3 linked regions of the Homo sapiens genome follow. The protein of the gene in region 3 binds, or shares a complex with, the protein of the main gene of each other region. Each region holds a gene or a part of one and is shown on either strand. Other genes may lie near its edges. The genes, in order: POLD2, POLD4 and POLD1.

Region 1 (9,211 bases), on a different chromosome or scaffold from region 3:
CCATCGCGCCCTATGACCCCCCAACAGCGACGCCTGCAGCAGCGACGCCTACAACACCGCCTGCGGCTTCGGGCACAGATGCGGCTGCGGCGCCTCAACGCCACCACCACCCTAGGCCCCCACACTGTGCCTCCCACGCTGCCCCCTGCCCCTGCCACCACCCTGAGCACTACCATAGAGCCCTGGGGCCTCATACCGCCAACCACCGCTGGCTGGGAGGAGTCGGAGACTGAGACCTACACAGAGGTGGTGACAGAGTTTGGGACCGAGGTGGAGCCCGAGTTTGGGACCAAGGTGGAGCCCGAGTTTGAGACCCAGTTGGAGCCTGAGTTTGAGACCCAGCTGGAACCCGAGTTTGAGGAAGAGGAGGAGGAGGAGAAAGAGGAGGAGATAGCCACTGGCCAGGCATTCCCCTTCACAACAGTAGAGACCTACACAGTGAACTTTGGGGACTTCTGAGATCAGCGTCCTACCAAGACCCCAGCCCAACTCAAGCTACAGCAGCAGCACTTCCCAAGCCTGCTGACCACAGTCACATCACCCATCAGCACATGGAAGGCCCCTGGTATGGACACTGAAAGGAAGGGCTGGTCCTGCCCCTTTGAGGGGGTGCAAACATGACTGGGACCTAAGAGCCAGAGGCTGTGTAGAGGCTCCTGCTCCACCTGCCAGTCTCGTAAGAGATGGGGTTGCTGCAGTGTTGGAGTAGGGGCAGAGGGAGGGAGCCAAGGTCACTCCAATAAAACAAGCTCATGGCACGGACTGCTCACATTCTGAGGTGTCAGGGATGGGGAGGAGGGAGACCGGCTGGTGGGTGCATGGGCTATGGTCACTGTGGGCACCCCTGCAGGAGTCCCATAGCCAGAGTGCCCAGGGCTCAAGGCTCGCATCAGCAAGTGCTCAGGCTTTATTTACAATGCCGACACTGCAGGGAATGAACAGCCTCCATCTGGGCCTCTCTGGTCAAAACCACTTTTTTGAGTCAGGGGCCCAGCCCCAGGCCTCCCAGGTCATCGTCCTCTGCCCCGAAGCCCGAGAAGCTGATGGGCTGGCAGGCCAGGCTGCGCAGGTTCACAAGGCAGGCGGTCTGCGTGGCACTGAAGTCAGGGACAGTCACCAACAGCACTGTCTGGTCCTCAGGACCTGCAAAGAAGTCACATAGGACCCACTGTAGGTTCCAAGTAAGTCCTGCCTCAAAGAGAAGCTGCCAGAAATAAACAGGAGTCCCCATTGGCACACAGTGGGGCAGTGACAATAGGAGACCAGAGATTAGCCTTGAGAGGCACACAGGCTGGGAGCCGTTCCAGTCCCTGCCCAGCTGGCGAGGCAGCTTGGCTCCCACAGTGAAATGGCAGCTGTGCAGAAGACCTCAGCTGTCCATCCCACAAGGGCCAGGGGGACTCCACAATGCAGGTTTTCTTCTCTGTGAACCTTGTCCCCAGGTGAGAGCAAATCAGCAAATCAGCCTGGGCCCCCAGAAGACAAAAATTACCTCGGATGATTTTGGAGCCAAAGCTGGGGGTGTTGCCACAAAAGTAGACATGCGGGCACTCTGGGAAGATGAACGGGTCAGTTTTGTAGAAGGGGTAACAACCTGGAGGAGAAGGGGCAGCTCTGAGGAGGGTTCCGCCTCAGCACTAGCACTCTGCACAGGATGTGGGGCTGCAGCCCCTCCTCCCATTGCAGGCCAGTAGGAGACCCCCAGTGTGACAATAGGGGCACCTCCAGACATTGTCACAAGACCTTGGCCCTGCTGTTGCTGCCCGTTGGGGTGGGCAGCCATTGGCCTTAGAATTAAGATTCCAGAGTAGCTTCCAGAGCAGGTGCCAAGCCTCTGAACTTCTCCTCAGACAGTTCTCAGCAATGCTGGCAAGTGCAAACCCACAGGGGGACCCTGTGCACTTCAGGGTCCTGCCAGGCCTCCTGGCCCTCTGCTCCCACCCTGTATGGCTGAGCCTGTTACCTAGAGTGTCAGGGGCTGTGGGGCTGATGTGACGGACCCGCAGGGTCCACTCCAGGATCTCCAAGTGATCCTCCATGCTGCTGTATCGGAAAATGTCACTCACGTTCTGTCCTGATGTCCCCAAAAATCTGCAAGGCAAAGCTCAGCTGACTCTTGGCTTTGGGTGCCACCCATAGTGGTCAGCCCAGAGCTCATCTGGCGCTCTTGTGGGGATGCCCCAGAGAGAAGGAACAGATGCTAGGTGGGCCTCTGCAGCCCTGCCACCTTCCTGGGCCCTCCCTCCCCTCCCTTCTTTGTGCCTCCTGAGGCAAAAGGCTGGGTCAGACTGAAGTGTGGCTGTGCCAGCTACCTGACTCCATCAATGGTGGCCTGGTAGGGGTTGGTGACCAGCTGGAGCGTGGAGTAGGCAGTGGCCAGCGGGAACATGCAGGGGTGGAGGGGCTGCTGGGGGAGCGTGTAATTGGTGGGATCAAACTCGCCTGGCATCACGTCCACGGGCACTGAGGCCTGGAAGGCACAGGGCAGGGAGAGCTCACAGGGCCCCGAAGGAGCCCCCTACACCAACTCCGGCCACTCCCCCTGCCCTCCTGCCTGCCTTCTGTTGCCCAGTGGCAGCTTTGAAGACTGCAATCCCCATCACCCCTCCAGCCCCCAGCTCGCTCACGCTCAGCTGCAGGAGGATCTCATCCAGCATCTTAACAGCCTCCACGCTGGCTGCCTGGGTTTTCTTGGTGAGGTATTTGGCCTGGAATAGAAGCCCAGAAGGCCATCAGGCCCAGGCGAGTCCCAGGCTCAGAGGAGAGTAGAGCCCCACCAGCTGGAAGATGCAGTTGTTGTCCCATAGACCCTCACTCCCTTCAAGCCTCCCACCATCCTCAGCGAGGGCCTGGGCATGAGGAGCCCCATTGCAGGAGGCCCCAGAGTCACTGCAGGGCGCTTCCCACCGACCTGCGAGACCTCACAGGGTACCCTACTCGCCCTGGGGAAGGAGGGTCTTACAGGCTTGCAGGCTCCTGGGCTGGGGCTGAATGCAGCCAGGTGGGCTCCATACCTTATTGATAGAATCCCTGCTCTGGGTGCTGTGGCTGAGGAGGTTGCCAGCGAGGATAACCCGGGAGACGTGGGCGGCGCTGCACTGCTCCCCTTCGTCCCCAAGCTGCCCCGTCACCACATCCACCAGCAGCTGGGTGCCCAGCAGGCTCTCGCCTCCACCGCCACCCAGGCCCAGGCCGGACACCAGTAGCACAAACCTGCGGGAGAAGGTGGGGTCCTCCAGGGTGCCGAGAAGGGAGGCAGCCCCTCCTAGGTGCAACTCAAAGATTCCACTGACCATGAGCTGGTTCCAGCTCCCGAGAACTGCTGCTCACCTATCTGTGTCAAGTGGGGGTGCGGGCTTCTGGGGAGCAAGGTCAGCAAAGCAATAGTCCTCCACCAGAAACTTCCCGTCGTCTCTCACGGAGCCAAACACAGCCAGGACAGTCCCTGGGGAGCAGTGGCATCAGGCCTGAGCAGGGAGCCCCAGGTGCTACCACTCCTTCCAGTCACCCCAACGGGCAAAACAAGCCAGTTCTCCACAACCACATTGGTGAATTCTCACCTAGGACTCCAGGATGCATGCCTGCTTCCTGGAGTCACTGCCCTTGGATGGAGGTGGGGAGACCCATCTCCCAGCCAGGTCTCACCCAATCTGATGGCCTCCGACCGCCTGGAGCCTCACCTACCTCCTCAAGAACACACGTGTGCCCAGGCCACACCCCCCCACTCCCCCCAGGCTCCCCACTCACACCATCCCTAACACACCACCGCTGGGCTCTTCACCTGCATCACCCACATCCTCTCATTGGGCTCCCTACCCGTAACCAGCTTTGACACGTCAATGGTGCCTTTTAGTTTGATACGCTGCAGTTCATCTTCCAAGACCAGCTCGTCATCTGGGTGTATGTATTTACTCCGAGGAGGCTGGGGGAGCAGGTTGTGCTGGAATGCAGAGACAGGAGGTATAATCTTGGGGCCAGAGCCCACCAAAGCTCTGGTGTTAGTGAGCTGGCACCGCAGCCCCCACCCCTCTGGAGTCCATTGTCTCTGAACCTGCTTCCCCACAACCCCACCTCCAGGGAGGTGTTCTAGTGGGAGGCCAGGTCTGCCTGGCGGCCCCACTGTGTAGCACCCTGCCTCACCTCCTCGCTGACCTCCCGCAGGATGGAGGGCTGCAGCGGCATGGCCTTGAACAGAGTGCCCACCACACAGCACTTCTCCTCAGGCTGCAGTTCACACAGCTTCTTCACTCCCACTCCACTGCCTGGGACACGAGGGGTACAGACTCAGAGATGAAGTAGCCCCCCCGCCCGACAGAGGCCATGGAGGCCCTGCCCAGCACTCCATGAGAGGCCAATCACAGGGCCCTGGCCTTGCCAGGAGAGAACATCAAGTACAAGGACCCCCTGGACTTCACGGTGACAGTAAAAAGTGAGTCAGCCACAGGAGACCAGGGACTCTGGGTGTGGTTGGGCCCTGGATGCCAAGTGTCCTCATGAGAACAGAGAGACAGACACACAGACAAGAGGGAGTGTGAAGACGGGCAGAGCGGAGTGATGCGGCCACAAGCCCAGGAACACCAGGGAGGAGGCCAGGAAGGACCCTCCCCTCGGGCCTTCAGAAGGAGCCAATCCTGCTGACATCTGGATTTCAACTTCTGGCCTCCAGAACTGCCAGAGAGTAAATGTCTGTGTTTTTCTGTTATTGTTGTTTCTGTTTTTGTTTTTGTTTTGAGGCGGAGTCTCGCTGTCATCCAGGCTGGAGTGCAGTGGCGCGATCTCAGCTCACTGCAAGCTCCGCCTCCCGGGTTCACGCCATTCTCCTGCCTCAGCCTCCCGAGTAGCTGGGACTACAGGCGTGTGCCACCACGCCCAGCTAATTTTTTTTTTTTTGTATTTTTAGTAGAGACAGGGTTTCACCGTGTTAGCCAGGATGGTCTCAATCTCTTGACCTTGTGATCTGCCCGCCTCGGCCTCCCAAAGTGCTGGGATTACAGTCGTGAGCCACCGTGCCCGGCCATGTCTGTTGTTTTAAGTCAACCAGTTTGTGGTGCTTTGTTACAGCGCCTACAGGAAACTAATACAAAGTACTGCTTCACTTATACCTAAATTACAACACTGACTCTTAAAAAGAAGCATGCCAAGTCTCAACACAGCCCTGTCCCACAAATAACTGCCATTTTCTTTTAAGACTTTAGATTCTTCCACCCTACCCCCCACCCCCAACCCCCACCAAATGCTTCATCCTCTGAGACCAGAGATACTCAAAATGCAGACCTCAGATCCCCTCCACCCATTCCATTCCCGTGGAGTCAGGTGGCTTTGTTTACCCAGGGCACCTGGGCACCGTCTTCCCCAGCCCCTTCCCGGGATCCTAGGTATGAACAAGAACACATGGGAGGGGCTTGGCACTCTCGAGAAGAAAGGTATGGAGAATCAGTGAGGGCAGGAGGGAGGAATACAGGTGCCCACACAGCACAGATCCAGGCCTGGAGAAAACACCAAGGAGGTGACAGGACAACGCGGATGCCAGACCAGCCCCTTAGCCTAGCTGACTCCAGCACAGCCTGAGCCCCTGCTGCCTGGGAAGAACCAGGAATATTCCTCAAATCTACGCCCTAGGGAGCAGACAGAGGCGAGCAACTCAAAACAAGACAAGAAGGATGCCAGCAGCAGACAGAAATGCAACAGACTCCACATCCTCACGTATCCCACTCTTACTCTCCCCCAGGTGGCCTAAGCACTGTACATGTAACTCAGCCAACGCTGAAAATGTGCCAGGAGTAGATATTATCACCCAACTGATGCACAGAGAGGTTAAGCAATGTGTCCAAGGGCACACAACTGGGATCCAAGTGTATGCCCCTGAGCACTGGGCAGAATGACATCCCTGTAACCGATAGTAGGACATGCTTCCACCCAGGCAATGTGCTGGCACCAAGATCAAAACTGGACATAAAAGCCAACACTTGCCCCCACTCAGCCCACTGGGTCTAGGCAGGAGAACGACAACAGGCCATAGACAAGTAACTCGCCACAGTGACAAGTGCTGTGAACAAATGGTGAGCTGAGGTAGAAAACGGAGGCCCTCATTGCAAGGTGGCTTCAGGTGGCCCCTCAAAGAATATAACACTTCAGCTGACAGTGGGGCTTAGATGGGGCCATGGGAAGACAAGGGAAAGAGTGTGCCAAGTGAAGGGAAAAGCCTACAGCAGGAAGGTCTGGGCAGGTTTGGGGAACAGGTGAGTGGAAAGACCAATTTGGAGAGACAGGCTGAGCTTCAGTGAGGATGCACAGGCCACATGGAGAAGCCACATGTAGGTATTCAGGGTGGGGGCCAGCACCAACCACCAGGCCTGTGAGCGAGTGCTACTGCTGCCCCGCTGCTATCAACACATTCACTGTGGCAGCTGTTTGGTTTCCTGACCAGTCTGTGAGCACAGTGAAATCGCTATCGTCCATCACTGGGGAGCTTTTTTGACAGCTCCAATAACTGGAAGAGAAATGTGCGACCAGAGGAGGTGCTGCCGGAAAGAATCTAGAAGGTGGCATTGACATTGGGCCCAAGTAGTAACTGAGCTCTGAAAGGAGCCAAGGAAGGTGTCCCGAGGGCTGAAAGGAAAGTGAGGAAAAGCTACCGGAGCCGCAGGAGGGAGCCCCTGATTATGTGGGAGAGGAGAGGTGAACAGCACTTTGTCTCAGGTAAACAAAACAGAAAACATCCTGATATGATTTGGCTCTGTGTCCCCACCCACATCTCATCTGGAATTATAATCCACACGGTGTTGACGGAGGGACCTGGTGGGAGGTGACTGGATTGTGGGGGTGGATTTCCCCCATGCTGTTCTTGTGATGGTGAGTGAGATCAAGCCATCATGCGATCTGATGGTTTAAAAATGGTTGGCAGTTCCCCTTGCTCTCTCTCTCCTGCTATCATGTAAAAGAGCCTTGCTTTCCCTTCACCTTCTGCCATGATTGTTAAGTTTCCTGAGGCCTCCCCAGCCATGAGGAACTGTGAGTCAATTAAACCTCTTTTCTTTATAAATTACCCTATCTCAGGTAGTTTTTTATAGCAATGTGAAAATGGACTAATACATATCCCTAATGAATTTGAGGTTCTAGCTAGATTTCTAGGCCCAGGGTTCTCCTGCCTGCCTATAACGAGAATTGATCTTGGCTTGGCATGGGATGAGATGGGCTTCTCAAAGCTCCCCAGGGGATTCCAATGTGCAACTAGGGCTGAGATCCATTTTGCCTGGTGCCAAGGACAGTAAAAATGAGTAAGACCTGGTCTCACCTACTAAATCCTCAGTTTAAAAATATAATAGGAGATGGATTTGAAAATTACCTGGAAAGCCACTCTTATGTAAGTGGTAGGAATGGGGGAATGCAGCAGCACCTAAAACTCAAATAAACTCAAAGGGGGAGATGGGGGTCCCTGCTTCACCACCAAGAGTAATCCAACTGCAGGAGAGATCACCAGGGAAGAAATGGGGGCAAAGAACAAGGGTTGTGTTGGGCAGGCCACTTTATTAGGAAAGACAGAGGGCCCAAGGGACAGGAAAATTCATGGCCAGCAAATATGGGGGCCAGGAGGAGAGGCAAACAGACATGAGTGAACAGAGGGGGTCCCCTCGAGACCAGAGAGTGCATCCTCACCAGTCTTGGCTCCTGGTGCCTGGCGCCAGGCTTGCCACACTGAGGGGCTCTCTGGCTACAGCACAGGCAAATACCTGAATAATCTGCACTGAAGATAGGAAAACCATTTTCCTCTGCCAGTGAAGTAATCGCCATCACCGCCAGAACTAAGTCCTCATCTCCAACCAGCCTCTGAACTAAAACTAACTCCAAACCCACAAATTACTTAATTTAATCCTTGTTACTATCTTAAGAAGAAACTGAGGGAAAAAGAGGTTAATTTTCCCAAGGTAACAGGAAGTGGGATCAATTAGATAAACTGTTCCCATTCTCTTGCAGAACACTTCTAAGTTCAGGGATGCTGTGGGGGAAGCACCTTCCCAAACTCTCACTTACCCCAGTGCTGCTGGGCCCGGTTCTCCAGGAAGGGTCTCATTTGGATGAGGCGGGTGGCATAAATGTGGGCATACTGCCGGCTAAAGCTGCGCTCTCCTAGCCGGAAGGGTTGTGAGGAGTTGGTGTAGGTTGCCACTGGCACCCGGGCAAAGGTGGCATTGTTGGCTGATGGTGGGGACAGTAGAGTGTGGGCCCTCTGGGCAGCCTGCTCAGAAAACATGGCCACACTCCTGACTTGCTTGGTCCACACAGCTTCGCCCAGGCCAAGGAGGTTCACTGCGAAAACACAAAGGCATTCCTGCTGCCCCTGTCCATCCCCCAAAGCAGCAGCTCTCCTGGTGTCTCACTGCACCCAAAGGATACTGGGAAAAGAAGGAGAACAGCTGTAGTTGACACCAGACATTGTGTCCACTTGGAAATTTATCGTGCCTGGATACCGATGTCTCACCCTGTAGCGGTCATCCAAAAAGAGAAAAGGAAAGCTAGGAGTGTTTGTCCCATCTGGAGTTCTTCCCGAACCCTAGACTCAGGTGTCCTGTTCCATCTGGACAACTACCAGGGTCTCAATCAAGTTCAGTTTGCCCCAAATGGAATTCCCGATCTGCCTCCATCCAGCTCTCCGGCACCTGTCTCATTTCCAGACAAGAGGTCTGCCTTATTAAATAAAACTTCTGTGAAATAATAAGCCTATTATTAAATAATAATAGAACTAAACCAAAACCAAAACATAAATCAGTCACTGCTCTGTTCAAAACTCTCCAAAGTGTCCTCATTTCATTGAATAAGGCCCCAAGTCCTTACAACTGCCTATGAGATCTGCTCCACTGGTCCTCTCCCCTCCTGGTTCCCACTCCTCCACCTTGGATCCCTCCCCACAGCAAGGGGCCTCTGAACTCTTGCTTGCCCCTCTCCCGTATACTTATAGAGCTCACTTGCCCATCTCCTTCAAGTTCTTACATCTTTACTCAAATGTTACCTTGTGCCCTGCCCATCTGATTTACAACTGCAACTCTCCCCAGTACTTCAACTGTTATTGTTGTTTACAACATTTACCTTCTAACAAACTGTATATTTTAAATGTATTGTCTGCCTGCTCCAACTAGACCATAAGCTCCAGGAGAGCTGAGATTTTTGTGTCTTATGCCACTAGCCACCTAGGGCTACGAAGTACAGGAGATGT
Region 2 (10,404 bases), on a different chromosome or scaffold from region 3:
CTTCTGAGCAGTCCACCTCCCCACGCTGGTCCAGATCACCCTCAGCTCTCATGAGGCCAACTTCAGTAGCCTCCTGAGTGGTTTTGCTACCTCTGTTTTCCCCAGCTCCACAATCTTGTTTTCCACCAACAGAGTAATGTTTTCGAAACATAAGCTTGACTCTGTCATTTATTGGCTTCAAGCCCTCCAGTATCCTCCCCTCTCACTCAGAATCAAATCCAGTTTCTTATCATGGCCCTAGGGACCAGCCCGCTGCCTGTCTGCCCTCAATTCCCACTACCCTTCCTCACTCCCTGGCCCCCAGCCTCACTGGCCTCCTCAGTGCCTTTCCTGGAGCAGGCTGGAAACACTCCTTCCTCAGGAAGCTTCTCCTTGTTGCTCCTTCTGCCTGGAACCCTCAGATGCAGACCTTGCTCCCTTCCTTCCTTCAAGTCTCTGCTCAAATGCCACCTTAGCAGAGGGCCTTCCCTGACCAGTCTCTCTAACATAGCGCCCCTGGCATCCTTGGACCCTTTCTGATCCCAACTCTGATTTTGCTTACTACTGACTGCTACCTGTCATAATTAACTTACGTGTTTGTTTTTGCCCATCTCCTGACCATTAGTAATACCCCAAGGGGACCTTTGGTGCCTGGCACATAGTGAGTGCTTAGCAGCTGGGCAGGAGGTATGGCATAGTCTGGAAGAGGTTAATGCAAGTGGCCCCTGGTCACTGCACTGCCTCTTGCCTGCTGTGTGCTTTTGGGCAACTTTACTTAACCTTTCTTAGTTTCAGTTCCCCCTCAGTAAAACCTACCTGGAAGGTTTTTTAGGAGGATTCGAGGTAATACATTTAAAGTACCTGAGACATGATCAGTGCTCAGACGGGGGCTACACAGGCCACTTAGCTGCCCTCTAGGCCTGTTTCCAAGAACTTACTAGTGCTGCCTCCATCTACCCCCAGGATAGAGGGCTGCCACAGTAGATGAAGGTAACACTATAGAAGCGGTTACTGACTCTATTCTCCATGTCATACCCTGACCCTGGGTCCCCTGGGCATTGTTTCTGGCTCCAGCCAGTTCTCCTCCATCCCCCAGCACCATCAGTTTCTTTTTTCTTTCTTTTTTTTTTTTTTTTTTTTGAGATGGAGTCTTGCTCAGTCGCCCAGGCTGGAGTGCAGTGGCGCGATCTCGGCTCACTGCAAGCTCCGCCTCCCGGGTTCACGCCATTCTCCTGCCTCAGCCTCCCAAGTAGCTGGGACTACAGGTGCCCGCCACCAGGCCTGGCTAAGTTTTTTTGTATTTTTAGTAGAGACGGGGTTTCACTATGTTAGCCAGGATGGTCTCGATCTCCTGACCTCCTGATCCACCTCCCTCGGCCTCCCAAAGTGCTGGGATTACGGGCGTGAGCCACTGCGCCCAGCCTTTATTTTGTATTTTTTTATTTTTTGAGACGGGGTCTCTCTCTGTCACCCAGGCTGGAGTGCAGTGATGCGGTCTCAGCTCACTGCCAGCTCTGCCTCCCGGGTTCACGCCATTCTCCTGCCTCAGCCTCCTGAGTAGCTGGGACTACACCTGGCTAATTTTTTGTATTTTTAGTAGAGATGGGGTTTCACCATGTTAGCCAGGATGGTCTCGATCTCTTGACCTCGTGATCCGCCCTCCTTGGCCTCCCAAAGTGCTGGGATTACAGGTGTGAGCCACCGCGCCCAGCCATCAGTTTCTTACCAAAGCCCCTCAGATGATGGTCATGTCTGAGCAGGTCCTGCAAGTTGAGACCCTCGCCAGCCCTGCTTTGGATCAAGGTGGCCCCCGATGTGGGAAGCCAGAGGTGCTTGCTGGGAATGTATAGATATGTTTGGACTTCATGAGCTATGGACCCCAGGGGTCCTTCTCTGGCAAAGCACCCATGTTTGTGAGGTGGGCACCGCTTAGCAAGGCAGGTGGCTGGCTAGTCAGGTAGGTTTTCCCTGGCTGCTCCAGAAGGTGAGTCATGAGTAGTTTCCCTGTGGGCCACCAGGGGGCACCAGAGGTCGCTCAGCTCTTCCGAGGACTTGATCCGTCTCAAGATGACTGTCTCCTCCCTCTTCGGCCTAGGACTTTCTTGAAGGAAAAGAGCTGTAGTGGTGCCTCTCTCATCTCCTAACTTGCTAGGGACTGCCAGTCAAAGCAGGGCCACAGTAAAGGACTGAAGGTCAGGATTCCAGGCTCAATATTCTTTATTGATAAGCATTAGTGAACCCCTTGCCCTGGGAGCTCAGCCAGTCCTGCTCTCAGATTCCTGGCCTTAGGTGGGAGAGCATCTTTTCCTCATGGATCAACTGTCCATGTCTGACTGTGCCTAACTTGCCAGATCATGGGTCAGGGAGACAGGCAGCAGGTATTGGAAGGTGATGGCCAGGTCCTTTTCCCCAGTGACCACTCTCCATCTAGAAGCACTCTGCTTCAGCTGCGCAGGCTCTTCCGGGGACTCTGGGAGCCTGCTGGTTAGATGGAGGAGTTGAGCCTCTGACACCTCCAGGTTCTGCCTGCCAAGGGTTCCTCCGCAGCCGGGCTGAGCTGAGCAGGAGCAATGGGCTCTCGCTTCTGTCCTGAGGTTCTTGGGTGGTGAGCAAGAGAGCTAAGGGCAGGAGGTCTTACGTGGTGCCTCATAGGGGATAGAGATGCCAGAGACTGTGGAAGATGGGGTGGGAGGGAGGGATACCCCAGAGAGAGAGAGAGAGAAACAGAGAATCAGTTGTTGAGTCCCTGGATCTGATTTCACCAGCTTATTCTTGGCCATGCCCATAGTCCTTGGGAAACCCCTCAGTTCTAAATAGATAGTTCCTTGGGTCCTGGGTGTACCTTTGCCCCCCACTAGCTTGTAGAGGTAAGAATTATTGGCCGGGTGTGGTGGCTCACGCCTGTAATCCCAGCACTTTGGGAGGCTGAGGTGGGTGGGATCACGAGGTCAGGAGATCAAGACCATCCTGGCTAACACGGTGAAACCCTGTCTCTACTAAAAATAGAAAAAATTAGCCGGGCGTGTTGGCGGGCGCCTGTAGTCCCAGCTACTTGGGAGGCTGAGACAGGAGAATGGCGTGAACCCGAGAGGCGGAGTTTGCAGTGAGCCGAGATCGCGCCACTGCACTCCAGCCTGGGCAACAGAGCAAGACTCTGTCTCAAAAAAAAAGAATTATTATAGTGGCGTGTCCTCCTGAGCCAGGCACCTCATAGAATCTTCTTGCCTGTTCAGCAAGGCCTTCCAACCCTCCATCCATTTCTCCCTCAGGTCAGGACAGCAGGGTGACAGTGCCTGGAGAAGGCCCTGGCTCCCCTGAAAGCCCTCCCGGCCTGTCTCTGACCTGCACTGGAAGCGGGGGTCTCCGGGGTGGGTCTTCAGCACCTGCCACACCTCTGGGGGAGGCTCCAAGCCCATCTGCTTGGCCCGACACCAGCGCTGCAGCCGTGTGATCCCTGCCAGGGTGGGAAGAAGACTCTGGAGACTTGTGGGGGGTGGGGTAGAGTCTGAGCTGGAGAATGTGTGTGTTGGGGGGAGACAGTTCCTGAGGGTCAGAGTCACGCAAGCGCTTGGGTGACTTCAGAGACGTGTGGGTGACTGGCTGGGAGAGGCGCCTCCGTGGGGCTGGGTGGGTTCTCACCGGTGCAGGGCCCGTACTGCCAGGCCAGGTCAAACTGCCTCAGCAGCTCCAGCTCCGCTTCCTCCTCGTCGCGGGGCTGGGGCTCCTCCCCTGCAATGACAGCTGCTCTTCAGTACGAGGTTGGCTTCAGTCTCCTGCCCCTCACCTCCCAGCCTTCCTCACCACCGCTTTGCCTCTGCCACCCCGCAGCTAGACCTGGTGTCGGGAGGGGAGGACAGGCCACCTTTCCCTTTCCATCGGCCCCTCCGCCCCTCTAGGGGCCTCCTCTAGGCCCCTCCGTGTCCACTCCTCCTGCCTCCCTCACACCTCAGAGACCTAGCTCGGGTGCCAGCTCCCCCTTGCTGTGCCCAGCGGGCCCCTCCCTCCTCTTCACAACCGGGTAGGAATCAGTGATGAGCCGCTTCCGGCCCATGGCGGCCACCCAGGCAGGCAGAGAAGGAGGCAACTGCGGGGAAGAGGAGAGACCGGCCAGTGGGCGCGAGAAAGACAGCTGCTGAGAGAGACAGACGGGGCCAGGCCAGCGGCGGGCAGACAAGATGACCCAGACAAACCGAGAGAGGAAGTCGCCGGGGTCCAGGGAGGGACGCCTCCCCCACCCCCAAAAGCACGCAAACAGGAAAGACTTCAGCCAATGGCAGGCCGCCTATGCGGGGCGGGGCCCTGGCGCTAGCCAATGGTAGGCAGTGTAGGGTGAGGGGCGGGGCGGTGCCTCAGCTGTGGGCCGCGGGAGGAGGGGCAGGCTGGGGCGGGGGACCTGTCGGGATGCCCCGACTTCACCACCTTCCCCGGCCCCCATTGGTCTGCTGTGGGTCCCGAGAGACTTCAGGAGAGTTATCTTCAGCCTCTCACTTCCCGTTTTCCCTTCCTAGGCAAATGTTCTTTTCAGCTTCGCTAATCCCCGTGGCCAGTTTGTAACTCCCTAGAGTCCAGCTGGAGCCTTCACTCGGTCCTTTGGCCCGCCCCGCCTTGTGGGGGCAGGTCTGGAGGTCTGAAGAGAGTTTGGGCTAATCCAGGCCCCTTCCCGGCTCCCACCCAACCCCCACTGGCCCCAGGAGACCTGGCTGGAGAAGCCCATGGGTTCTGAAACCTCCTTTCTCACAGTCTGTGCCCAAAGATGCTGCCCACTCTTAGTCCGAGTAAGTGTTTGCCGTTTTGACTCTCCTGGGGTCCCAAGTCGTGTCCGGCCCGCCCCACCAGTCAGGAAGATTCCATACTGAGTAGGAAGGCAGAGCAAGGGTCTGGTCCCCCCACCACAATGTGTTTGGATCCCTAGTTCTTCACTGGCAAAATCTGCCCTGTCTCTCACAATAATGTGAGTCTGAGCAGAAAATATTAATAATAAACCTAACACTCATTGCACGTACCATGTGCCAAGTACTGTTCTAAGCACTTTCCCACATGTTAATTAAAATAGATGTCAAAAAGTTTTTGAAAGTAGGAAGTATAGCTAAATGATTATCACTGCTGATAGTCACAGGCATTGTAGGGCCCCAATCAAACCACAGTCTCTCTTGCACCCCAGGAGCTCACTGTCACAAGGCAGACAGATGCACAGTTGTCAGTGAGAGGCTATAATTCCTACCAGAAGAGGGAAAGGGTGGGTCAGAGATTGGTTAGGACCACAGGGATGATTAGCATTGGAAGGCCTCCTGGAGGAGGTGGACTGCTGTAAACAATGTCTCTCAATTCTCCACCCATGACCTTTGTCCCTTGGGCTCCTGTCATCACTGACTCACCCATACTGCTGCCTCCCCCTCACCAACTTCCTGGCAGGAGGCAAAAGTACTGGCCAGTGGGAGTCTGGGAACCAGCACAGGGACCAGCCCAGCTCTAATCACCCTCCAGAGATCCCATCCGGTTCTTCCTTCCAGGGATACTGGGAGGGTGGGGCACAGACTCCTGGGCTGCTGCCTGCTCAGAGGCCTCTGCCTCCTCCTTTCCCTGCTCTGGGGTCTGGGTGTTCTGCACTGGAAGAGGGCTAAGCCACTGGTACACGTGGGCACAAGGGAGGAAGCTGCTCTGGAAAGGAGACCACCAGAGGGGAGGCAGAGGAGCAGGCCATGTCTTCAGGGTCCACGTCCTGCCTGGCTCTCCCCATCGGCGTCCTAGAGGAGGGAGCTTGTGGGGGCACTGCATGGAGCTGGAGGGCCCTTTCTGCTGTATTGTTTGGGCTGGGCCTAGTCTAATCCCCCCATCTGCCTTGCGGACTAAGTGGGGCCCACATTCAGGGAGACAGTGTCCCTGCGGAGTTAGTGATGGAAGCAGGGAGGCCCTGTCTACCAGGGCTGGGAAGGGCCTAGGTGCTGAGTCCAGTCAGGTGCTGAGCATGCTAGGTAGGGATGGCGTCTAGGCTCTGGGGGATTGACTACCCCTCCCCAGAGGGTCTTGGCAAGGGTTCCTGGGCTGTTTCCAGAGGTGTGTGGCACCCACCTCCTGAGTCCACCAAGCCCTGAGGGAGTAGGGAGCCATGGGTGGGGCAGACCCCTCCTCATTCCCAGTCCCTCCCACCCCTGAAAGCTGATAGCCGTGGGGCCCTGCCACCGCCCAGGGAGCGTGAAATGGGGTGTGCCGCTGGGCAGCCACAGTAGCTCCTACCACCGCCTGGGCCTATTGCCTTTTCTCCTTGGGCAGCCTCTGGCATCCTGAGCTGCTCTGTAGATGTTGGCTGGGCTGTCCCTGCCAGCTTCCCCAGCTTTGCCTGGCACAGGCCCCAACCCAGGCTGGAAGATGTCTCCCTCAGGCTTCAGCTACCCCCACACCCAAGAAAAAGATTCAGAGTGGTCAGCTCAAGTGCAGGCACCCTAGGCCTGGCTTTCTGCCTTGGAGTTGAGGGAACTCTCTGCAGGCAGCATTGCTGCTCTCTCTTAGATGGCAGTAGGGTGGAGCCCCTAGGAAAGAGTTGGCACCCAGGGATTTTGGAACCATCCCTGTCCAACTGGCATGCCCTGACTCAGCACCTGAATCCCTAAGGTGCGCTGAGGACTAGGCTGGACCTTGACCTTCCTGTCCTCAGGTCTTTTCCTTCTTTGCTGTCCAACCCCATCCACCTTCTGTACCTTCTTGCCTAGAACCCCTTCACCTACTCAGGCAGCATCCTGGCCTCATTCCCTAAACTGCTGTCTTGGAGCCTGTTCAGGCTTCAGACTGGATGGCCAGGCCAGAGTTCTGGGTTGGGTGCTGAGTTCTCTCTCCCTGGGGGAATGTCCTGAGACCCTTGTGTCAGCCCCGACACCCAGAGGCTGGTGATGAGACTAGTAGGAGTGACCTTTGCACCTCAGCCTGGTAACAATACCCAAGACCCTTGCTTCAGGGCCAAGCCCAGAGTCCTGGGGGTCCAGGAGAGAAAAGAACTGAAACAGGAACCCGGCACCTTCCCAGGGGCTGAGGCCCACCGCTGACTGCACTCAAGGGAAGGATTAGGTCTGGCTTAGCTCAGACAATGTGGTAGAATGGGGGCCTCAGCACTGCACCTGCATTCCCTTCCCCCACCTCACCATGAGGTTTGTGGGGAGAGCCAGGTAGAGCTGGGAAGCTGGAGGCAGGTGGAGAGAGGGGAGCAGCTGCCTGGGACCCAGTGGGCTGTGGGGTGGATCCAGCTCTTCTTCCCTCTCGCCAGTACCCCCCTTCCTCAGGCCCTTGGGCCCTGCCACCCACCCTGAGCTGAAAGTCAGTCCCACTCAGGAGATTCTGGGCAGCCAGAATACCCCTGGCCCCGGCCCCCAACATACTCACACACCGTGGGCCCCATTCCTCACCCTGTGGGCCAGAATTCTTTCAGGCAGTCCTTCCTAGTCCCTCACTGCCTTCCCAGACACTCCCTCTTCCCCTGGTCCAGGTTCTCTGGCCTAATGTGCTTCCATCGCAGCAGCTTGAGTGGAAAGGATGGGGTCTCTGGGTTTTTCTACCACTGCATCTTCTGTCCTGCTCCTACCACCCTCCACACCTTCTTCTCTAGTCACCTCCTCTTTCACCTTGGCCATCCAGGCTCTGGAGCAGTTCCGGGAAGACTTGAAAAGGGGCCTTCTGGCCATTACTCACCTTGGCCACCAGGTGTCAGACTTTGCCCAGCTGGGTGGGAGGAAGGTTCTAGTTAACCATTTCCACCCCATCAGTCTGGCCTCAGAGAGAGATCTGGGCAAGTTGGGGAGGAGCCTAGAGGTGACCACTGAACTGGCAAGGCTGAGGGACCCTGAAGGTTGAGACTGGGAAAAGGACTGGAACTCTGACTCTACAGCTTTCCCCCAGATCCCCCTCACTGCCACTGCCCCCACACCACCCCACTGACAAGGGCTTTGTCCCCTGCTGGGAAGTTCAGGAACGAGGCTGAGTCAGGGAGCTTGAGAATTGAAGGAACAAAGGCAGGGACAGTTGTAGCTCCACAGCAGAAGGGGAAGCTGAGAGGGAGCTGCCCATCGGAGTGCCCAGCCAGGACTGAGTCACTAGCCCTTGCCCTCTAGGTTAAGGGGAACAGAGGGCCTCCCTTTGCCCTTCCCCATTTAGGGTGGCTGTGGCAAGTGAGAGTGTGTGTGTGCATGTGTGTGTAAACTCAGTGCTTGAATGAGCCTCTCATATCATGAGGCGGCCTGTAAGTCTTGGACGGTAGGTCAGTCTTTGCAAAAGTGGAAAACTGGCAAGATCTGAGTATTGTGCCATCTCCCATCAGAGCCTCCTCTAGCCCCACTTCCCCCAGAGGTTGCCCCTGCCTCAAGTGATAGTTCTCCATTTTATGCTCATTCTTTCAAACATAGGTGTGTTTCTAAGCACTCAAGATGATGACAAGATTTCTAATCCTTACATTCTATCTGGAGATGATGGAGAGGAGGGTCTTCTCTTGCCCACTCTCCCGATCCTTGTGGGGACATGAGGAATACTAGAGATAACACACCCTCCACCCTTTGACATTGCAATGCCTTAGAGTCTCATGTTAGCCTCTGGGCCTCTGACTCTGAAGCCATTCTTAGGAGGTAGAACCTCGATAACCAACAAAACTCATTGGATCTCCTGAAGCAGCTCTGGATGGAAAACCAATGACTCACTCACAGAAAACGCCAGTGCCCTGTGATCTACCAGGTGCTCCCTGTGCTGTGGTGCTGGCATTTTCACAAGATGCCTGTGGGACACAGTGCCAAAACACAAACGAGCAGCTCACATCCCCTGTCACCATCATTAGGGGCTATTTGAGAGAGTTCAAGAACTCACACTCTGAAGTGCCCTCTCTGATGGTGCTCTCATCCCCCTCTCCCTCCACCACGCCACCGCCACTGTGGGAGCGTTCTGCGTCCTCAGCATGCAGGAACCCCAGCGCTCCCCATTCAGGATTCTTCTCCCAGCCTATTCCCCTCCTCTGTTTCCCTCCACTGACCACTCTTCCCTTACTGCCTGGCTCTGGCTCCCAGCCAATTTCCAGTAGTTTCCAGCAGCCTAGAATCCCCCTTGATTCTCTGCCATTCTTGCCTTGCCAATCCTCAGCCTTGGAAAATGCCCTCTTCTCCAGTCTGTCCCTCCCTCTGAAATGCTAAGGAATGTCACTGCCCATGGTGACAGGTCCACGGCAAAGGTGCCTGCTGATATCACCGGGTTCTATTTGGCTGCCCAGACACCCTTTGGCTCTCCTGTGGTTGTCTCCTTATTCCATTCTCTAAACCTCCCCATTTTTCTCCACCCGCCCCCTACTCACTCAGCAATAACATGTTTAGATCACTTCTATTTAACAACAACAACAACAAAACAAACAAAAGCCTTCTGTGATCTTGCTAACCTTTCTAGATGGTGTTTTTTTGTTTGTGTGTTTTTTGAGACAGTCTCGCTCTTGTCGCCCAGGCTGGAGTGCAGTGGTGGGATCTTGGCTCACTGCAGCCTCCACCTCCCAGGTTCAAGCGATTCTCCTGCCTTAGCCTCCTGAGTAGCTGGGATTATAGGCATGCACCACCAGGCCTGGCTAATTTTTATAGTTTTAGTAGAGATGGCCATGTTGGCCAGGCTGGTCTCAAACTCCTGACCTTAAGTGATCCGCCCTCCTTGGCCTCCCAAAGTGCTGGGATTACAGGTGCAAGCTGCTGCGCCTGGTCTCTTAACCAGCAAACTCTGAGGGACTTGATTTACCCCTTCTACTTCTGCCCACCATGGCCTTCATTAATCTCACAACTCGGTGGCTGCCTCTCACCTGCTGTTTCACAAAGGTTGCCTGAGACTTCCTGATTGCCAAAGCCACTGGATTTTGCTCAGCATTCTTCTTGAGCTCCTCTGGGGCATCTGAGACTGTTGATCAGCTCCTTCCTTCACCTAGGCTGGAGTGCAGTGGTGTGATCACAGTTTACTGCAGCCTCGACCTCCCAGGCTCAAGCGATCCTCCTGCCTCAGCCTTCCTTGTAGCTGGGACCACAGGTGCGCCACCACACCTGGCTAATTTTGTTTTGTTTTGTTTTTTGTTTGTTTGGGTTTTTTTGAGATGGAGTCTCGCTCTGTCACCAGGCTGGAGTGCAGTGGTGCCATCTCGGCTCACTGCAATCTCCGCCTCCTGGGTTCAAGCGATTCTCTTGCCTCACCTCCAGAGTAGCTGGGACTACAGGCGTGCGCCACCACATACAACTGATTTTTGTAGTTTTAGTAGAGACAGGGTTTCACCATGTTGGTCAGGATGGTCTCTATCTCCTGACCTCATGATCCGCCCGCCTCAGCCTCCCAAAGTGCTGGGATTACAGGCGTGAGCCACCGCGCCTGGCCAATTTTTGTGTTTTTTGTAGATACAGGGTTTTGCCATTTTGACCAGGCTGGTCTTGAACTCCT
Region 3 (10,007 bases):
CGTCTTTTTTATTGTAATGCAGGGAGTATGTAGACGTCTTTTTTATTGTAATGCAGGGCATATGTATAAATCTATTTGCTTTTAATGCATCATTCTATAAGGAGAGCTAAGAAACTGGTTTCCTGGGGGACAGGGTAGAAGACTTCATTTGCTAACTGCTTTATTGAGCTATAATTCACATACTATACAATTCACCCATTTAAAGTATATATAGTTCAATGGTATTTAGTATGTTCAGAGTTAGGCAACCATCACCACAGTCAATTTTAGAACTCTCTCATCACCCCAAAAAGCCTAAATCCTTTAGCTCTCTCCCTGCATTCAGCCCATCTGCCCCCACCCCTGGCAGCCACTCATCTAACTTTCTGTCTCCATGGATCTGCCTATTCTGGGCATTTCCTATAAATGGGATCTTGGAATATGCAGCCTCTTGTGTCTGGCTGCTTTCTCTGAATGTGTTCATCGCTCATGTGTGTGGCGGCCTTTCGTCAGTGCTGTGTCCCTTTTTTGCTGAGTACTTTTCCGCTGTATGGCTAGAACACGTCTGACGTATCCCTTCATCAGTGGATGGACATTAGGGTTGCTTCCACCTTTTGTGAGTGGTGCAGCCGTGAGCGTGTGCAGGGGGTTTTGTGTGAGGAAGACTTTGACTGCGTTTGTGCTCTTTGGGTGACAACCGCGTACATGTGTGACTTACAGGAAGAAGCAAGCGTCGTTAGCGGCTCTGGCTTCGGGTTGTGCAAGTAGCCAGAGAGGGACAGGGAGTGATGATCTGCGAGGAGAGACCCGGGTGGGACAGAGGAAGCGCAGGGGCTTGTGGGAGCCCAGAGTCAGTGCTGAAGCTGGAGGAGGAAGGAAGGAGCTGACTGGCTGCCCTTGGTCAGTTGGCTGTGGCTGCGGGGGTGCGGTGGGAGGGACGGTGTCACCAGGGGCAAAACCTGGGCTCTTGTTAGTGGAGGCACAGCAGCATTAGGAAGGAAAGGCCCCTGTGTGTCCCCTCTCATTGGCCCTGGCACAGGATGAGAGCTTGGCAAACACTGTCCTCTGCCCCTCTCACGACCCTTCGGTAGCAAGCACTTAACAGAGATTCAGCAACAAAATGACACCACGTGCTCGCTGCAGGCCAGACACCAGTTTTCTCGATGAGTGAGACACTCATTTCCTCAATGACCTCATCCAATCTTGCCCAATCTCACAGCTTTATTTTTATTTATATATTTTTTTGGGAAAGGATCTTGCTCACTGCAACCTCCGCCTCCTGGACTCAAGTGATTCTCCTGCCTCAGCCTCGCAGGTAGCTGGGATTACAGGCGCCCACCATGTCCAGCTAGTTGTGTATTTTTAGTAGAGTTTCACCATGTCTGCCAGACTGGTCTCAAACTCCTCACCTCAAGTGATCCGTCCACCTCGGCCTCCCAAAGTGCTGGGATTACAGGCGCCCACCACCACGCCCGGCTAATTTTTTGTATTTTTAGTAGAGACGGGGTTTCACCGTGTTAGCCAGGATGGTCTTGGTCTCCTGACCTCATGATCTGCCCGCCTCGGCCTCCCAAAGTGCTGGGATTACAGGCCTTAGCCACCGCGCCCGGCCTAGCTTTTGTATTTTTTGTAGAGACAGGGTCTTGCTATGTTGCCCAGGCTCACCTGCATGCTTTCGGCCTTGTCCTTCCCCTAGGCCTCTGTGACTGCTGTCTCTGGACTGCCTGGGTGTGTGTCTTCCTCCCTTACCAGCCAGGGACCTCTGGATGGCAGAGCAAGGACTGACTCTCCTCTGGGACCTTAGCATCACCCAGCACAGGGTGGGCCCCCAGGAGGCCTTAGGCAGTGTTCGCTGCATGAAACTCCACTGCATCCAGAGACTCAGCTCAGGCTTAGCTCCTCCAAGCTGACCAGCTGCCCTTCAGGGTTCCCACAACGCCTTGTGCCACTTTCGTTATTGCACAATGCAGAGCTGGGATCCTTTCAGCCTGTGAGCTCCTTGAGAAAAGGAGTCAGCATCTTGCCCAAGTTGGGGTCTCCAGCATCACTCTGCACAGTGTCCGGTTACTTCAAGACATGAGTTTAGGCCGGGTGTGGTGGCTCACACCTGTAATCCCAGCACTTTGGGAGGCCGAGGTGGGAGGATTACTTGAGGTCAGGGATTCGAGACCAGTCTGGGCAACATGACAAAACCCTGTCTCTACTAAAAATACAAAAATTAGCTGGGCGTGGTGGCACACACCTGTAATCCCAGCTACTCGGAAGCCTGAGGCATGAGAATCGCTTGAACCCGGGAGGTGGAGGTTAGTGAGCCGAGATCGCGCCACTGCACTCCAGCCTGGGCGACAGAGCAAGACCCTGTCTCAAAAACCAAAAAAAAAAAGACATGTGAGTTGAAACTCCCTGTGAATATCAACCACTCTGGTGAGTCTTCCCTGAGCGCACAGGTTCTTCTCTTGGCTCCCAAAGACTATCACTGCTCCGCCATAGCTCAGCGCACTCTGGACTGAAATCTCCTGTCCTTCCCCAACCAAACTGAATGATCATTGGCTCCCCAGTGCTCAGCAGAGGGCCTGTCCAAACAGCAGCTGTCAGAAACACATAAGAGAGGGAAGAGCATTTCAGGGGGAGGGAAGGAACCTCTCTAGGGGGAAGAGAGACCTGTGGGGGGGAAGTGCAGGAAGGAGGAGAAGCGGCCGTGCGTGGTGGCTCACGCCTGTAATCCCAGCACTTTGGGAGGCCGAGGCAAGTGGATCACCTGAGGTCAGGAGTTCGAGACCAGCCTGGCCAACACGGCGAAACCCCATCTCTACTAAAAATACAAAAAATGAGCTGGGCATGGCAGTGGGTGCCGTAATCCCAGCTACTCAGGAGGCTGAGGCACGAGACTCGCCTGAACTCGGGAGGCGGAGGTTGCAATGAGCTGAGTTTGCACCACTGCATTCCAGCCTGGGTGACAGAGCAAGACTCTGTCTCAAAAAAAAAAAAAAAAAAAAGAGAAGACAGTGGCAACAAGTTCCTTCAGTGGAAGGGCTGAGGCGAGGCACTGACATCGCCCTGCCCACTCCTGGCTCCGCTCTAAACCCTGCCCACTCACTCCCCCACTAATCTTTGCCTTCAGAGCGGCAACCCCAACCTGCTTCTCCCTTAGCCTTCCCCATCCAGCCTGCTGCTCAAACCACAAACCCAGGAGTCATCCTGGACTCTTCCCCTTGCTCCTACGCCCAGTCCATCAGCCAGTCCCCCTGTCTCCGCCCGCAAAGGTAACCGGAGCCTGATTCTCTGCCTGCAGGACGCTCTCCCTCCTAACAGATCTCCCTCCTTCCATTCTTATTCCTGCTACAATCCAATTTCCACTCAGTGGTGAGTTTTTCAAAACATGGGGCGAATCGTGTTGTTTCCACGCTCAAACCCTCCCACGGCTCCCCGCTGAACCTAGAATAAAGGAGAAATTCCATACCAAGTTTTACAAGGCCCTATAGGATCTAGTTCCCCATCATGACTCCGACCTCATCTGTGTTTCTCTCGTCCCCTCGGCTCCTGCTACAAATACGCCAAGCTCCTTCCACCTCAGGGCTTTGCACTTGAGGGTCCCAGAGCGGTCGATTCTGGACCACTCCAGCTAAAGCAACAGGCTCTTCGCTCATTATCACGTTACCCTGCGTTAGTTTCCTTCTGAGAGCATCTCACAGCCCCAGAGCACTGCTTTACTGATCTATTAAAACTCATCACTTGTCTACCGTCTGTCTTCCCGAGACAGGGACTTCTCTGACTTGTTCCTGCTTCCAGAAAAGTGCCTGGCACAGAGTACTCAAACACCCAGCGAATCCAGGATGACACCAAGCCCGCACGTGCACCACCCAGTCCCCCCAGCTCCTCCCGGGCCACGTCCCGCCCCACGGTGCCCGGCGCATGCGCCCCCTGCCCGCCGAGGAATTCCACCCCCACCCCGGCCTTTTCCTGCTCGTCCCCGCGCCCTCGCCCAGGAAACCCCTGGCCCCTGCCCTCTCCTGCGCGCCCCCGGGCCAAAGGGTGCCCTCGCAACCGTCTCTCAGATCTATGTGCCTGGCTGCTCAAGCCCCGTTCCCTACCAGGCCCACTGCCCCGAACTCCCTTTTTCCCCTCTACTCACCCGCTTCAAACAGCGTTTCCCGCCACAGCCTACGCCGCCGTGACCCCTGACTCCCGCGCGCGCAAGCCCAGAGCCGCGGCGCTCAGAGACGGGCCACGCCCCCGCCTGCCCAAGTGCGGGCAAGGCCACGCCCCGCTTGTTCGACTGCAGGGCAGGCCCCGCCCCCTCTCTCAGCTTCCGAAGTGGCCTCGCCCCCTTGCTGAAAAATTCCCTTAACTCCGCCTCCCCATGACCTGTCTGCCCGAAGCCACGCCCCTCCGCGCGGCTACCTTCACGACCTCGTGCGGTCTGGGCGCGCCGCGGTTCTGTTCTCTCTCCTCCCACCCTCGGGTGTTGCGCGCGCATCCTCCGCGTCCCCCCGCCCGCCTCTCGCCCGGGGCCGTGTAGGGAGCGCTGCCCCGTCGCTGCCCAGCAGCCAGCTGGTGACCTGACGCCCAAGATCCCCGCAGAGGCTGGCCGATAAGCGGTAGAGTCCTGGCTTGATCTGTTCTCCTTCATCCTAGCTTCAGTTTCCCTATACGTAAATTAGACTCAACAACGCATGATAGGGACACTTGTGGGGCGCCCGGTACACTACTCTTAGGATAAGGTGATCATTGGTAACTACTCTCACTTCCGCTGTTCCCCGCCCCAAATAAATACACCTTTAAGTTGCATCCCTCCATCCAACCCCCCTTTCGCCCTCGATTGGAATTGCTCATTCAGCTCCTTCAGGGCTGGCACAGGGGCAGGAAGGATTGGAGGAACTTCGTCGCTTCGCTCCGAACTCCTGGCGTCTCTCCTTTCAAACTTTGCACGTGCTGTTCCCTCAACTTGGAGGCCCAGCCCCCAGGCTCTTGTTTTAGGTCCCAGCGATTGCCTCTGTTGTGATACCTTCCCTGATTTCCTCTAGCCCCACCACAGTGCCACGCTCATTAAAGTCCCTATCCCCCGAGTCTTGGTAGGAGGATGGTTATCTTGTTCACAGATGTTTCCAGTGCCTAGAATTGTGCCTAACTGTAGTTAATGCTCTGGAAACATTTATTGGGTGAATGTCTCCATCTCTAGAATGGCCAACCCAGTGCCTGGCCCACAGGAGGCCTCAGCAAACACTTGTTGTTCGGACAGAAGTCCAGGTCCCCTCATTCACTTAAATCCTGTTTATCCTTCAAGGGTGAGTTCTGATTCACCTTGTCCAGGGAGGTGACCCTGAGGCTGAGGCCTCTGTCCTGAACTTTCACAGCAGGCGACACACCACCCAACACTGGGACCCTATGTGCCACCCTTTTCCCAACAGCCTGGGGACACCCAGTCCCACCTGCTCAATCAGGTTCGGGCACCCAGTGTCACTGAGGTCCCTAGAAGCCCGCGCCCTCTCCATCTTGCACTCCAGCTCCGGGCTGGATTGTATTCATATTTTATTTTCCTGTTTCTGTTTTTAGTTTTTATTAAATAAAAGCAGAGGAAGAGGAAGGCCCTGGTCTCCCGGGCTAGGGGGGAGAGCCATGGGTCCTCCCCTCCCTCTGTTCAAGGTGCACTGCGTGCTGGGCTTGAGGTGTAAGCTGGGGAGGGAGGGCAGCCGGGAAGGGTCAGTGGTCGGGACCTGCAACCCTTTCACCCCTTCTGGAAGACTCGCTGGGCAGGGAGGGAGCCTCCTGGACCTGGACTGGGGCTTATCCCAAGGGATGAGAGCCGATAGGTCTACAGGCTCGGCCCAGGGCCCCTTCCACCCTAGGAAGAGGAAGGGGTGCCGGCGTCTATCTGCTGGAGGGTGGTCAGGCAAGGCTGTGGGGCTGGGTGGCCAGCCCCTCACTCGTGGACGTCCCAGATCTCCGACAGCAGAGGCGGCAGCTTCTTGTCCTGGAGCCGCAAGGCGAAGACCTGCTCCGAGTGCACAGAGCTCAGCGTGCGCAGGCTCACCAGCTTCATGAGCATGCGCGGGAAGCGCAGCTGGTCCTGAGGGAGGAGGCAGGTGGGCGCTGGCTGAGCCCCTGCCCTGCCAGGCTTTGGGAGGCCCACCCCAACAGAAAGGAGGGCCCCTCCCCGACCAGGCGTGGGAGCCAGCGTGGGGCCCGCCTCTGTGCTTGGACTAGACCTGGCTCCCAGTCGAGCAGGGTGGGGCCTGAGGAAAGACTCTGCGGAGGGGAGGGCAGTGTGGCTGGCAGAACCCAGCCTGAACGGACCACGTGGGCCGCGGGACGTAGTTGGCTCTGCGCAGAGGCTCTGCGGGGCCCTACCTGCGGCCTCTTGATGCGCGTGTAGGACAGCAGCGCCTCCACGTAGGGCTGCTGCAACGCCTCCACGCGGCCCGGCTCCTGCACGTTGGGCCGGTCGGCCGAGAAGATGTTGATGGCGATGAGCAGGGCGTACTCAGCGTCGTCCAGGCCCAGCCGCCGCATGGCCCGCGAGAACTCGAAGATGGGGTTGATGAACTCCACCTGCAGGCCTGCGGGGCGGGAGGCAGCCCGTGACTCCCTCAGCCCGAAACCGTGCCCCACATCCTGGACCCTGGCGCTGCCCACAGTCTCTGGGGCTGGGAACACAGCAGTAATTACAGCGTTCTTGTCATTTCTGTCCACCTGTGCCCCGTGCCCATGAGTGCTGGCATGTAGTAGGTGTGCCACACATGCTGCCCAGTGAAGGAATGAATGAGGGTGCATGTTTCTTCAGTATTTTCTACTATCCTATCACCACCCTCCCTTCCCACCTGGGCGGTGGCTGCAGCTTCCCGAGTCCCTATTCTTGTCCCCTTCACAAAGGCAAAGGGAAGCTTTTAAAACCTAGGTCACATCGTGCTGGTCCCAGCGCTGGCTTCCACTGCTCAAGGTAAAGCCCAAACTCATTCCCAAAACTGACTTGTTCATTCAGTCATCAAATGTCACTGAGTACCTGCCACGTGCCAGGCTCCAGCACTTACATTTGAGAGCCTAGGGGACCGGTCATAGACAAACACATTAGGAAGAGGCCCAGCCTGTCAGAGGGCTGTGAGTTCAATGGAACCAGGCAGTGCAGAGAAGTGTGAAGGGCCCTGCTGAGCCATGGTTCTATTTTACACAAGGCGGGCAGGGAAGGCTGCGCTCTGGGTGACGCTGGAGCAGTGACCAATCCGAAGGAGATGAGGGATTGTGAGGGTGACCAACGTCTGCTGTTCCCATGACTTGGGACGGGGGCTACCCAGGCCATGAGACTTTCAGTGTTAAAACTGGGAAGGTCCTGGGCAAACTAGGACCAGTTGGTCCCCCTAGTTCTGGGCAGAGGAAACTCCAAGTACACAGGCCCTTGGCTGCAGCATGCTGGATGGGTGCCAGTAAGAGGCCAGAGTGGCTGGAACAGGGGGAGAGGGTGAGAGCTGAGGGCAGAGAGTGAGCGAGGCCAGGTCCTAAAGGGCTTTGTGGGCCACAGAGAGGACTCTAGCTCTTCTCCCAGTGAGACGGGAGCCGCGGAGGGTTCTGAGCGGAGGAGGGAAGTGGGCAGCCTTAAGTGCTGACAGGACCCTTCTGCCTGTGCTGTGAGCAGCCCCATCAGGCAGGGGTGGAGGCAGGCGGCCCCTCAAGGGGACCCTGGCAGTGTTCCAGGGTGGTGGCAGAGGAGCGGCTGGGAAGGGGTAGGGTGGGATTCCCGACCTCCTCTCCACCCCATCTCCTTGTGCTCCAGCTGCCTGGGCCTCCCTGTAGTTCCTCCAAACCACCAGCTCTCCCCAACCTCAGGGCCTCTGCAATCGCCAATCTCCTCTGCCAGAAACGCTTCCCTGCAGCCCTGCCCTGCTAAGCTCATACTAAAAGGGTTACTGGGACCGTCTCGGGTGGTGAAAGGGCCGGAGTAAGAGGAAGGGGAGAGGGTGGGGTTTGGACAGATGTCGGGAAATACAGAGAGGTCCCCCAGAGATTGTGGGACAATGAGGGAGCGAGGCCCTGGTGCATGCTCTGCAGCACTAGCAATGCTCCTCCCACCCTTTTCCTAGGCAGTGCCTCTCACTGCCCAGGCCTTCTTCCAGAAGCCCACCCACGCAGGTTAGCGCTCTCAGAGGGCAGGAAGCAGTGCTCCCCTAGACAGTAAAGAAGGCTGCCCGCTTCACAATGGACCGAGCTCCAGCCCGCCTCCCTTGGGTGAGACCACGTTTTGGCGGGGGCGGGGAATGCTTTTCCTAATGCCCACCAAGATGCCTGATGTGGTAACAGGGCTCCTCCCATCTCAACTTCCACTGCAACCCAATGTACAGAGTCGGCACTCAATACATGCTTTTTTTAAAAAATAGAGACACGGTCTTCTCTGTCACCAGGCTGGAATGCCGTCGCACAATCACGGCTCACTATAGCCTCAAGCAATCTGCCCTCCTCAGCCTCGAGTGGCTGGGACTATTGGCGTGCACCACCACACGTGGCACATGCACTCTTACCTCACTCTCACCTTGGCTCAACCCTCACCCCAACTTTGGAGATAAAGAAACAGAGACTCCAACAGGGATGAGTTGGCCCCAGGTCTTCCAGCCAGCAGGGGCGCCAAGCCTCCCCGAAGCCTCCCCTGGGCCCTACCTGCACGGTGGAAGTCGTCCTTGCTGTAGGTGAAGTCCTTCAAGAAGGTGATACACTCTGTCTCGTGGTTGTAGCGCCTGGCTGTCTCTAGCAGCATGATCTAAGGGCGGCAGCGGGAGGGGGAGCTTGAGCCCTGTGACCCTTCAGCTGCTAGTCCCTCCCCTCCTGGCCCAAATGGGGGTCTAATCTCACCAGGATTATCCCTTGTCCCCTTCCCCCCTGTTCTCTCAGCCACACCAGCGTGCAGCCATCACGTGAGACAGCCCGAGCTCTTTCTCCACTTCAGGCTTCCGCACATGCTGCATCCCCATCTCCTTAGGATACTCTTTCCCCAGGTGAGCACAAGGTTTGGGGCACGGGGTTTGATCTGCTTTGTTCTTTGCCCCATATGCCAACACTTGGAATAGAGCCTGGCATACAGCACGTGCTCAATACTTATATGTTATCCCTACTTTGATTCAAATGCTAACTCCTCTGAAAAGCCTTTTTGGCAACTTTTCTCTGCAATAGCGCCTCTAGCCTGATCCTCAATTTTCTCAGCCTCAGACCCTTTTTCCTTTCTCTCCTTGGCTCATAGAAGACTCTATTCGCCGTGGAATGTCATCCTACAACGGCAAGCACTGGTCTTCCTTAACTCTGCTCCCAGCATCTGTCCTGGAGCTATCTCTGGGGTTCCTTGTGGGCAGATGGACCATTACCTCGATAGTGGATGCCTTCAGGAGGGCGATCTGGTCCTCCCGGCCCAGCTGCAGGAAACCAGGCACTTGCTTAGCGAAGTCCACGATCTCCTGGACTGAGATGATGGCCAGCTCCGTGAAGTGGGCAAAGCGTTGCTGGCGGGCATCTCGGGACTGGGGGTCTGCGCCCAGGGGCCAGGGCTGGGACACAGGAGACCAGGGTCACTCCCAGGTCTTTGTGAGCCTAAGTCTGGGTGGCCACCTTGAGGCCAAGCCTGCACCCTGGGGGATCCTCTTCCCAAAGCCCCTGCCCTCTGGAGCCTCATTCTCCCACACCCTGGGTGATGGCCCAGCTGGCTCTACCCCATTGGGACCGTCACACTCAAGGTTGTGGAGGGGGCAGTACCGTGACTTTGGGCTGGTCGGAGAAGGAGCGTTTGTTGCACTGCAGTTGGGCCGCCACCAACTGCTGGATCATTAGTTCTTGAGCCGCTGTTAGCTGGACACCCTCGCCTTCCCCGGAGCCCTGGCTGCCTGCCTCAGATCCACCAGGGGAAGCCCCAGGCCCAGAGGCTGAGCTGCTGCTGCCCTGCGGCCCCACAGGTGACTGCGACTGTGACTGTGACTCCTGCTGCTGTTTCCGAATCTTCTTCTTCCGGATCTGTTCTTCAGAAAGGACGCCTGTAGGGGGATGCAGGCCTCAGCAGA

What was found.
Region 1: POLD1 (region 3) and POLD2 share a complex: the UniProt entries of both Homo sapiens proteins name them as parts of the tetrameric DNA polymerase delta complex.
Region 2: POLD1 (region 3) and POLD4 share a complex: the UniProt entries of both Homo sapiens proteins name them as parts of the tetrameric DNA polymerase delta complex.

The regions. Positions count from the first base shown.
Region 1 is NC_000007.14:44,113,803-44,123,013, forward strand, and holds the end of POLD2 (DNA polymerase delta subunit 2), read right to left. Parts: exon of another isoform or gene 9,085-9,211; intron 8,658-9,084; exon of another isoform or gene 8,308-8,657; coding exon of another isoform or gene 8,252-8,307; coding exon 8,032-8,251; intron 4,263-8,031; coding exon 4,141-4,262; intron 3,941-4,140; coding exon 3,817-3,940; intron 3,446-3,816; coding exon 3,331-3,445; intron 3,214-3,330; coding exon 3,015-3,213; intron 2,709-3,014; coding exon 2,628-2,708; intron 2,471-2,627; coding exon 2,313-2,470; intron 2,092-2,312; coding exon 1,964-2,091; intron 1,595-1,963; coding exon 1,493-1,594; intron 1,144-1,492; coding exon 983-1,143; 3' UTR 878-982; downstream 1-877. Other genes in the region: AEBP1 (adipocyte enhancer-binding protein 1 precursor), read left to right, coding at 1-459. UniProt on the Homo sapiens protein: Accessory component of both the DNA polymerase delta complex and the DNA polymerase zeta complex.
Region 2 is NC_000011.10:67,349,370-67,359,773, forward strand, and holds POLD4 (DNA polymerase delta subunit 4), read right to left. Parts: upstream 4,178-10,404; 5' UTR 4,031-4,177; coding exon 3,934-4,030; exon of another isoform or gene 3,925-3,933; intron 3,709-3,924; coding exon 3,619-3,708; intron 3,434-3,618; coding exon 3,322-3,433; intron 2,651-3,321; coding exon 2,626-2,650; coding exon of another isoform or gene 2,598-2,625; 3' UTR 1,403-2,597; downstream 1-1,402. UniProt on the Homo sapiens protein: As a component of the tetrameric DNA polymerase delta complex (Pol-delta4), plays a role in high fidelity genome replication and repair.
Region 3 is NC_000019.10:50,378,495-50,388,501, reverse strand, and holds the start of POLD1 (DNA polymerase delta catalytic subunit), read right to left. Parts: upstream 4,156-10,007; 5' UTR 4,112-4,155; intron 2,568-4,111; exon of another isoform or gene 1,645-2,567; intron 843-1,644; exon of another isoform or gene 698-842; intron 1-697. Other genes in the region: NR1H2 (oxysterols receptor LXR-beta), read right to left, coding at 5,900-6,046, 6,328-6,536, 8,623-8,722, 9,321-9,500, 9,706-9,980. UniProt on the Homo sapiens protein: As the catalytic component of the trimeric (Pol-delta3 complex) and tetrameric DNA polymerase delta complexes (Pol-delta4 complex), plays a crucial role in high fidelity genome replication, including in lagging strand synthesis, and repair.